Linked DNA regions of Homo sapiens. The protein of the gene in region 2 purifies or fractionates together with the protein of the main gene of each other region. This does not show direct contact. Each region holds a gene or a part of one and is shown on either strand. Other genes may lie near its edges.

Evidence for each region.
Region 1: the proteins of KIF20B (region 2) and ACSL3 purify together in Homo sapiens (affinity purification with mass spectrometry; one large-scale study listed by BioGRID and IntAct). This does not show direct contact.

What each region holds. Positions count from the first base shown.
Region 1 is NC_000002.12:222,867,380-222,871,204, reverse strand, and holds part of ACSL3 (fatty acid CoA ligase Acsl3), read right to left. Parts: intron 1-3,825. UniProt on the Homo sapiens protein: Acyl-CoA synthetases (ACSL) activates long-chain fatty acids for both synthesis of cellular lipids, and degradation via beta-oxidation.
Region 2 is NC_000010.11:89,718,494-89,722,318, reverse strand, and holds part of KIF20B (kinesin-like protein KIF20B), read right to left. Parts: intron 3,610-3,825; coding exon 3,447-3,609; intron 2,901-3,446; coding exon 2,613-2,900; intron 1-2,612. UniProt on the Homo sapiens protein: Plus-end-directed motor enzyme that is required for completion of cytokinesis. Required for proper midbody organization and abscission in polarized cortical stem cells.

The DNA.
Region 1 (3,825 bases), on a different chromosome or scaffold from region 2:
AACTTACTCAAAACTTAAAAAGCATTTGGTAATGTTCCCTTCCCTTGCCCTGCAAAGATCCAGTCAGTTGCCAAGTCCCGATGGTTCTGCTTCCTCTGTCATCCCCTGCCTCCTGCCCTTTCTCACGTGTTACTTTATCAGTTCAGGTCCTTACTCCTGTCACCTGGCAGAATTCAACTGTATCCTTAACTATTCCTCTGTCTCTAGTCCCCTCTCCCCCTCCTCCATCAATGCATCCTTCATTCATGTTGCCAGTGTGACGTTGCCACTCCCTTATAACCCGTATTTCACATCAATCCTCTCTTCAAGAATCTCAATTCCCTCCTCATTGTCCAAAAGGGGAAAAAAAAGAAGGAATAAAAAACAATTCCAAACTCGTCTGCCAAGTACTTAAGACTCTCCACAACTTGAAGTCAGCTTACTTTTCAACTCTCACCTTCCAACTCTCTACTTCGCACACTACAAACAAATCAATTCCATCCACTTCTTTGTCTCCCTTACCTGTCTTCTCTGCCTTTGCTCATTTTGCCCTGTTAGCTCTACCTGGAATGTCCTTTATTCTTCTGCATACATTCAAAGCCTAGTTATCTCTTAGCATCTAAATTGATTAGGCATTCTCTGATACCCAAACCTCCACTGGCCCTAGCCCCAGCCTGAACTTCTCTACCCATCCGCTGACCCCTTAGGGCACTCTCTCATGGCACTCATTTTCTTTTGTAATTATTTGTTAAACAATTGTACATCTCAATATAGAATGCAGAGAAACAGTTCTGCCTCATCTTTCACTCCATCTATTTACTGCCCACTGCCTCTGAGATGGTTTCCATGAGAATCTTGCTTATTGAGATGTCAAAAGAGGAAGAGACTCATGCAAACACCCCATTAAATTCCAGGTAGTAAACACATCAATGAATACATGGGGAAATGCACAAAGCTAACTGATAAAGTCAAAGACACCTAAGAAATAAATATGGCACAGGTAACAAAAATCCTGAGTCAAGTAAAGGAGGGGGAAAAGGAGGTAAAAAGAACAGTGATGAAGCAGATCCCTCTCCATCCCCCAAAAGCAAGAAAGGATTACAGACCAAAAAAAAAAAAAAACCAGAAGTCCAGTCAGACTAAATGGCACAGACAATGCCACACCACCAGTCTCAACGGCAGGGTTACAAACAACTCGGGCCAGACCTTCAAAGCTCCTCCTGCAACAACTCAGAGCCACTCAATTCTCTCCATTTGCTAGCTGCTAGTTCTCCCTTTCTATTCCTAGAAGGTTTAATTCATTCAACAACTACTTTCAGAGTTTAATCAATAAATAAAGAGGTTACGCTAGGTCTTAATTGCTTTTGTCCTCCAAGTCCATGTGCCTTTCTTCCCCATGGGATGTGATTTATCCTCACAGCTTCCTGAGTCCTCCCAAGCAGTTGATGGCTCAGTTTTATTTGCCAATCTTCCAAACTCCACTGCCCACTGGACATCCTATGTGAATACCTTCCTCACAAATCTTTCTTCAAATCTAACATTAGTCTCATTTTGCTCAGCTGACCATTCCCTGGCTACTGTGGCAAAACATGACCTCTCTGTCCTTTATACTGCTCATTTAACATTTACAGCATCTCCTCTGTAACTTCATATGGCCTAAATCCTCTTGTCCTTACAGAATTAACATTTCCTAGTCCCCTTTAAATAATGTGTATTTTTATTAATATAATGGGTTCACTCACACACTGGTTCAGAATGTCTTGTTACCATTTACCAAAAAACTACTTGTGAAGGGCAGAGAAGGGATAAAGAGGAAGAAAGAATATACATAGGGAAAACAGAAAAAAAGGAAGTTACAAGAGAAGACAGGGGAGCCAGAGAGATGAAGGAAGCAACTAACATAAGTCATGATAACCTTGTGAGGTAAGAATTGAAATCTTTATGTTACAGAAATTGAAATGGAAGGCTGAGAAAGGTTAAGTCACTCGCTCAAATTTACCTATGAAGCTTTACATACATGGATGGCAATGGTTCCTTCTCCACTGAACAACACAAGGTTGATGACATAGGATAATATACTTAGAAACACCATCTGAATCATTATCAGGGTCATATTACAAAAGGTATTTAAAACTAACAAGAGTAGACCCTTGGTAATTATCTGAGAATTTCACCATGTCAACTCACTTTCAAAGTGCTTTATACGTATTTCAAAAAAATTGAAACACGATAAATCCTAATTTTTTTTTTTTTTTTGAGACAGCGTCTCCCTCTGTTGCCCAGGCTGGAGTGCAATGGCATGATCTTGGCTCACTGCAACCTCCACTTCCCAGGTTCAAGCAATTCTCCTGTCTCAGCCTCCCAAGTAGCTGGGATTACAGGCACCCGCTACCACACCCAGCTAATTTGTATTTTTAGTAGAGACGGGATTTCACCACATTGGCCAGGCTGGACTCATGCCACATTGGCCAGGCTGGACTCAAACTCCTGACCTCAGGTGATCCGCCCTCCTCGGCCTCCCAAAGTGCTGGGATTAAAGGCATAAGCCACCATGCCCAACCAAATCCTAAATTATTGATATTAAAATATAACAATCTAGTTAATGTACCTCAACTTATGGTTTGCTACAGTTTACAGTATCTCTTCCCAATCTCCACTAACAGTTATAAAACATCACACATTTCCTTGAGGCATAGATGTCTGTGTTAAAATGCTGCTTCAAAAAAGAAGGCAACACCACAAACTGAGTAGGCTTAGAAAATACTGCATACTCTAACAAAAAATAAAACTAATAAAAATAGCTAATATGTATTGAGTAATGACTATGCCAGACACCTCATTTGAATCTCACAACAATCTACGGGTAGATTTCTATTATCTCCATTTTACAGATGAAGAAATTGAGACATAGAAATTAAATACGCTGCCCAAAGACACACAGCTAAAAAGTAGAGCCCGGATTCCAATCCAAGCAATCTTAACTCTGAGCTCATGTTCCTACCCACCAAACTGCAATGAAAAAAGTGCACTACATTTAGAGGAAAATATTTAAAGGAAACAAACACTAAAATACAGAATTAGCTAAATCAAATGTACATCAACACAGAAACGTTTCCCAAGAGAAAGGGTACACGTGAATTATCCCTGCAGTCATGCATGGAATTACAAGTAAAATAATATATATCTGTAAAATATGTTCAAGATATTTCTATATTTTAAGATATTTTTATTTAAAAAAAAAAAAAGCAAAGAAAGTTAACTAAAGTAAAGATTACTAAAAAGAGCCTTCGAGGAAAAGTGCCCATTACAGTTTTGTACTGTTAAGTATAATGGACAAAGAATGGTACCTTAGCTCAAATAATGAAACGATTAGAGGAAGGCCGAGACAAAAATGTGAAGAACAGAGAAAAAGGAGCACAGGTTAACTACAGTGTCAAAAATTAAAACAAAGACTTGTGTTCAATAATACTTAACGGTAATAATGTTTGTAATAACAAAAAAAATGGAAACAGCCTAAAAGTCTATCAAGAGAGCAAAGGGGAAATAAATATGGTATAGACCTAAAATGTACTAACTTGTCACAGTAAAAATAAATGACCTAAATCTACATGAACCCACACTGATGAATTGAGTTGAAACTCAATTCATGAAACCACACTGCTAAGTGATTTTGAGTGGGGATAAAATAAACAGTATGCTGAACAAGAATACATGCAGTACCATCTATATAAAGTTTAAGAATACACAAAACAATACTATACACTGTCTAAGGAAACACACATGTGTAATAAAGCTGTACAGAAATACATAGGAATAATAAACACCAAATTCAGAGCAGTGGTTAGC
Region 2 (3,825 bases):
ATTTAGGCTGGCTATTACAGCTAAACGAATTTAAGTATATGTATGCTAATACCAAGGTATTTTATAATGGTTTTTAAAAGTCCCAATCCTTTAATTAAAATGTCAAGAAAGGGCTGGGCACATTGACTCACATCTGTAATCCCAGCGCTTTGCAAGGCAGGAGGATTGCCTGAGCCCAAGGGTTCAAGATCAGCCTGGGCAATAGAGCAAGGCCTCATGTCTACAAAACATTTTTAAAAATTAGTTAGGGGTGGTGGCATGCATCTGTGGTCCCAGCTACTCAGGAGACTGAGGCAAGAGGATCACTTGAGCCCAGGATTTCGAAGCTGCAGTGAGCCATAACTACACTATTGCACTCCAGCCTAGGTAACAGAGCAAGACTTTGTCTCTAGAAGAAAAAAATAAAGCATGCCAACACCTAATCATATTGATTTTTAAATGTCAAATATTAGACATTTTGATGAATTTCCTTAAAATATTTAGTCAATCTTATATGATAAGCATTTATACTATATAATCCATCATAAACTATAGCATTAAATATTTTTCTCTAGTAATTTCAGAAATTTTACTAACCAACATTATACAAAAATTTCAACTTTGAAATGAAAAAAAAAAACTGGGTTTTTTGGTTTGTTTCTTTGTTTTTAAGACAAGGTCTCACTCTGTCACCCAGGCCAGAGTGCAGTAGTGCAGTGATGGCTCACTGCTGCCTAGAAATCCTGGGCTCAAGCAATCTTCCCACTGCAGCCTCCCAAGTAGCTGGGACTACACCTGTGCATCATCATGCCTAACTAATTTTACTTTTTTGTAGAGATGGGGTCTCACTATGTTGCCCAGGCTAGTTTTGAACTCCTGAGCTCAAGCAATCCTCCTACCTCAGCTTCCCAAAGTGCTCGAATTACAGGTGTGAGCCACTGCACCAGCCAAACTAGACTATTAAAGGCTCCTTTCGTCACTGAGGAGGTACTATTTAATACATTACAGAAGCCCAAGTAACACGGTCTAATCACATAGTGACCAGATAAAGTGGGACTTGTACTACATCTGAAGCTATCATTCTTGTTTCCAAACATATGTTCAATAATTGCTTTCAGGGACATGAAGGTAAATTATTAAAATGAGAGTATTTAGCCTAATACATCATCGTTCTACTTATACTTCTGCAATCCAGAAGAGTACTGTGATGTGTGATGTGTCAACACCATTAAAGCACACCCATGAACACAGGTCTACTAGTGTTTGTAGGACACTGGTAAGAGGACTCCATCTATACTCACGGAGTTATGGCCAATTAAAGATGGGAATAGGTGGCCAGGTAAGGTGGCTCATGCCTATAATCCCAGCACTTTGGGAGGCCGAGGCGGGCAATCGCAAGGTCAGGAGTTCGAGACCAGCCTGGCCAACATGGTGAAACCCCATCTCTACTAAAGATACAAAAAAAACTTAACTGGGTATGGTTACGCATGCCTATACTCCCAGCTACTCAGGAGGCTGAGGCAGGAGAATCGCTTGAACCCAGGAGGCAGAGGTTGCAGTAAGCCGAGATCGTGCCATTGCACTCTAGCCTGGGCAACAGGGCAAGACCCTCTCTCAAAAATAAATAAATAAATAAATAAATACTATAATTGGACAGAAGCTAAAAAAACAACCGTTAAATCTTATTTATTTATCATAATAACAAGACGACAAACAATTAGTGTTTTTGAAGATATGGGATCATAGGTACTTGGTAGATATTTTTAACACTTGTACTTGAGACTGCAAAATAAAGGTCTGATGGAATACATAAAATCACTTAGTGAAAGGATACTCACATGGTCTATAAGTAACACCCCACAGATAATATGGTTTTGCAATACAGATCTGAAATACTGTTATCTTAACCAAGTGAGCAAAACTTAGCATCTCTAAGAATGGAAAAATCAGACATCATGTGGCTCTTGGTGTGATGCAATGGAAAATTTACAACTTAACCTACATAAAAAGCTTCCCTAATGTATTAAACCTAAATCATGAAGAAATAATCAAACAAATCTAAATTGCAGGTATTCTATGAGAAAACTAGGACCCACTTTTCAAAAATGTCAGTGCTAGATTAGAAATGATTAAAGAAACACAATAATCAAAAGCAATGTGTTAACTCTGGCTGTAGACAAAAACAAAGTGGCTATAAAGAACATATTTGGAACACTGGGGAACTCTCAATACAAACAGTATACGAGGTTATATTAGTGTATCAATATTAAATTTTTTGGGTATGAAAATTTCATGGTCTTGTGATCATGATGAAAATGCCCATGTTCTTAGAAAAATATGTTCAAATATTTAGATGTAAGGTGTCATTATGTCTGGATCTTATTTTCAAATTGTACAGACCAAAAGATGTGTATTCACATACTCATAAAATGGTAAGTGGAGAATCCAGGTGAAGGATAAATGAGTATTCATTGTACTAGTCTTTCTATAGGTTTGAAATTTTTCAAAATATAAAGTTGAACACAAAAACTTCAGTGTACTGTTGAAAAAAACTGAAGAGAGAGAGCCTTAAGATTTAACCTTAACTTCAGAATAAGAAGACAAGCATAGAAGTATGAGTTCTTAATACATACTCTTTTCTCCTCGTGGCTAATGAAAGCCTTATTTTCCTCTAATGTTTTATCTAGATCTTCATCAAGAAGTTTAGTTTCCACATTTTGAGTTTCTTCAGCGTTTTCTAGCTCCTCAACCAAATCCTCGTCTTCCATCAAATCTTCTAGACTATTTTCCCATGAAATGGTGGCTCTTTTTACATTTAATATTTTACTGTTTGAATTACTGTCTAGTGATACATCTTGAGAAGATTTGACAGGTCCAAATAATTTCTCTTGAGAGGAATTTAAAGTGTCTGGGACACAAACCTGTTAAAATATTCAATGTGACTTTTAAAACAGAAAAGACAAGAACTGTCCACTAGAAAATGATTATTTTATAAATTTAAGTCAAATGAACACTCAAGTGTTAAGGAAAAACTATTCAAACAAACATACAAACAGGAATCACCATCCCTAAAAGAACATTCTGATAGGAAAAAAGCTACTTACACATGTAAACTAGAGGAAAAATCTATCTTCCTGGGCTAAGTGTTCAGTATTAATCTTAGCAGAGGGTTTTCCAATCACCCAGAAGTACCAAATGAACAAGATGAATGGCAGAGCAGACAATTCATTCCAAAAATACTCATTAATTTATAACTGATGTTTATTACTAATTCTTATTACTAAAGGTCATTTTAATCCTAGCATGGGCAACTTTCAATCCTTTCTCATGTCTTCCTACTTGGTTAAATATTTACCTTTTTAATTTTCAATTATTTCCTAGGCTTACAGTATTAAGTAAAAAATATTTATTTCAAGAAAAACTGTTAATATTCTAATAATAAGAGGCTTAATAAAATAAATATTTACTTTTTGTGCAATGGCGGAGAACTTCAATACATTGAGTGTTTCATCATAGGCTAAATAACATTGGCTGATATTGACAATCATACAAATTTTCCCTTTACCATTAAAAAAACTTTGAAAATAGTGAGTCAGTTTACTTTCCCGGAAAGGCACATGCTGTTGAAACCTACAGAAAAAATTTTCAGAAAACATTGTAAGTTAAAAAACATCTCATGAAATCAGGGTGCTGAGACATTTTACAAAGAAATAATTAAGCCACCTATCATGAAATTAAACTTTAGGGTAGTGATTAGTTTCAGATGTAATAGTCCTTCTCAGTTTTCTTTTTATCTTTTCTTGTTTGTTTTTGTTTTTGTTTCTGTTTTGAGACAGGGTCTAGCTC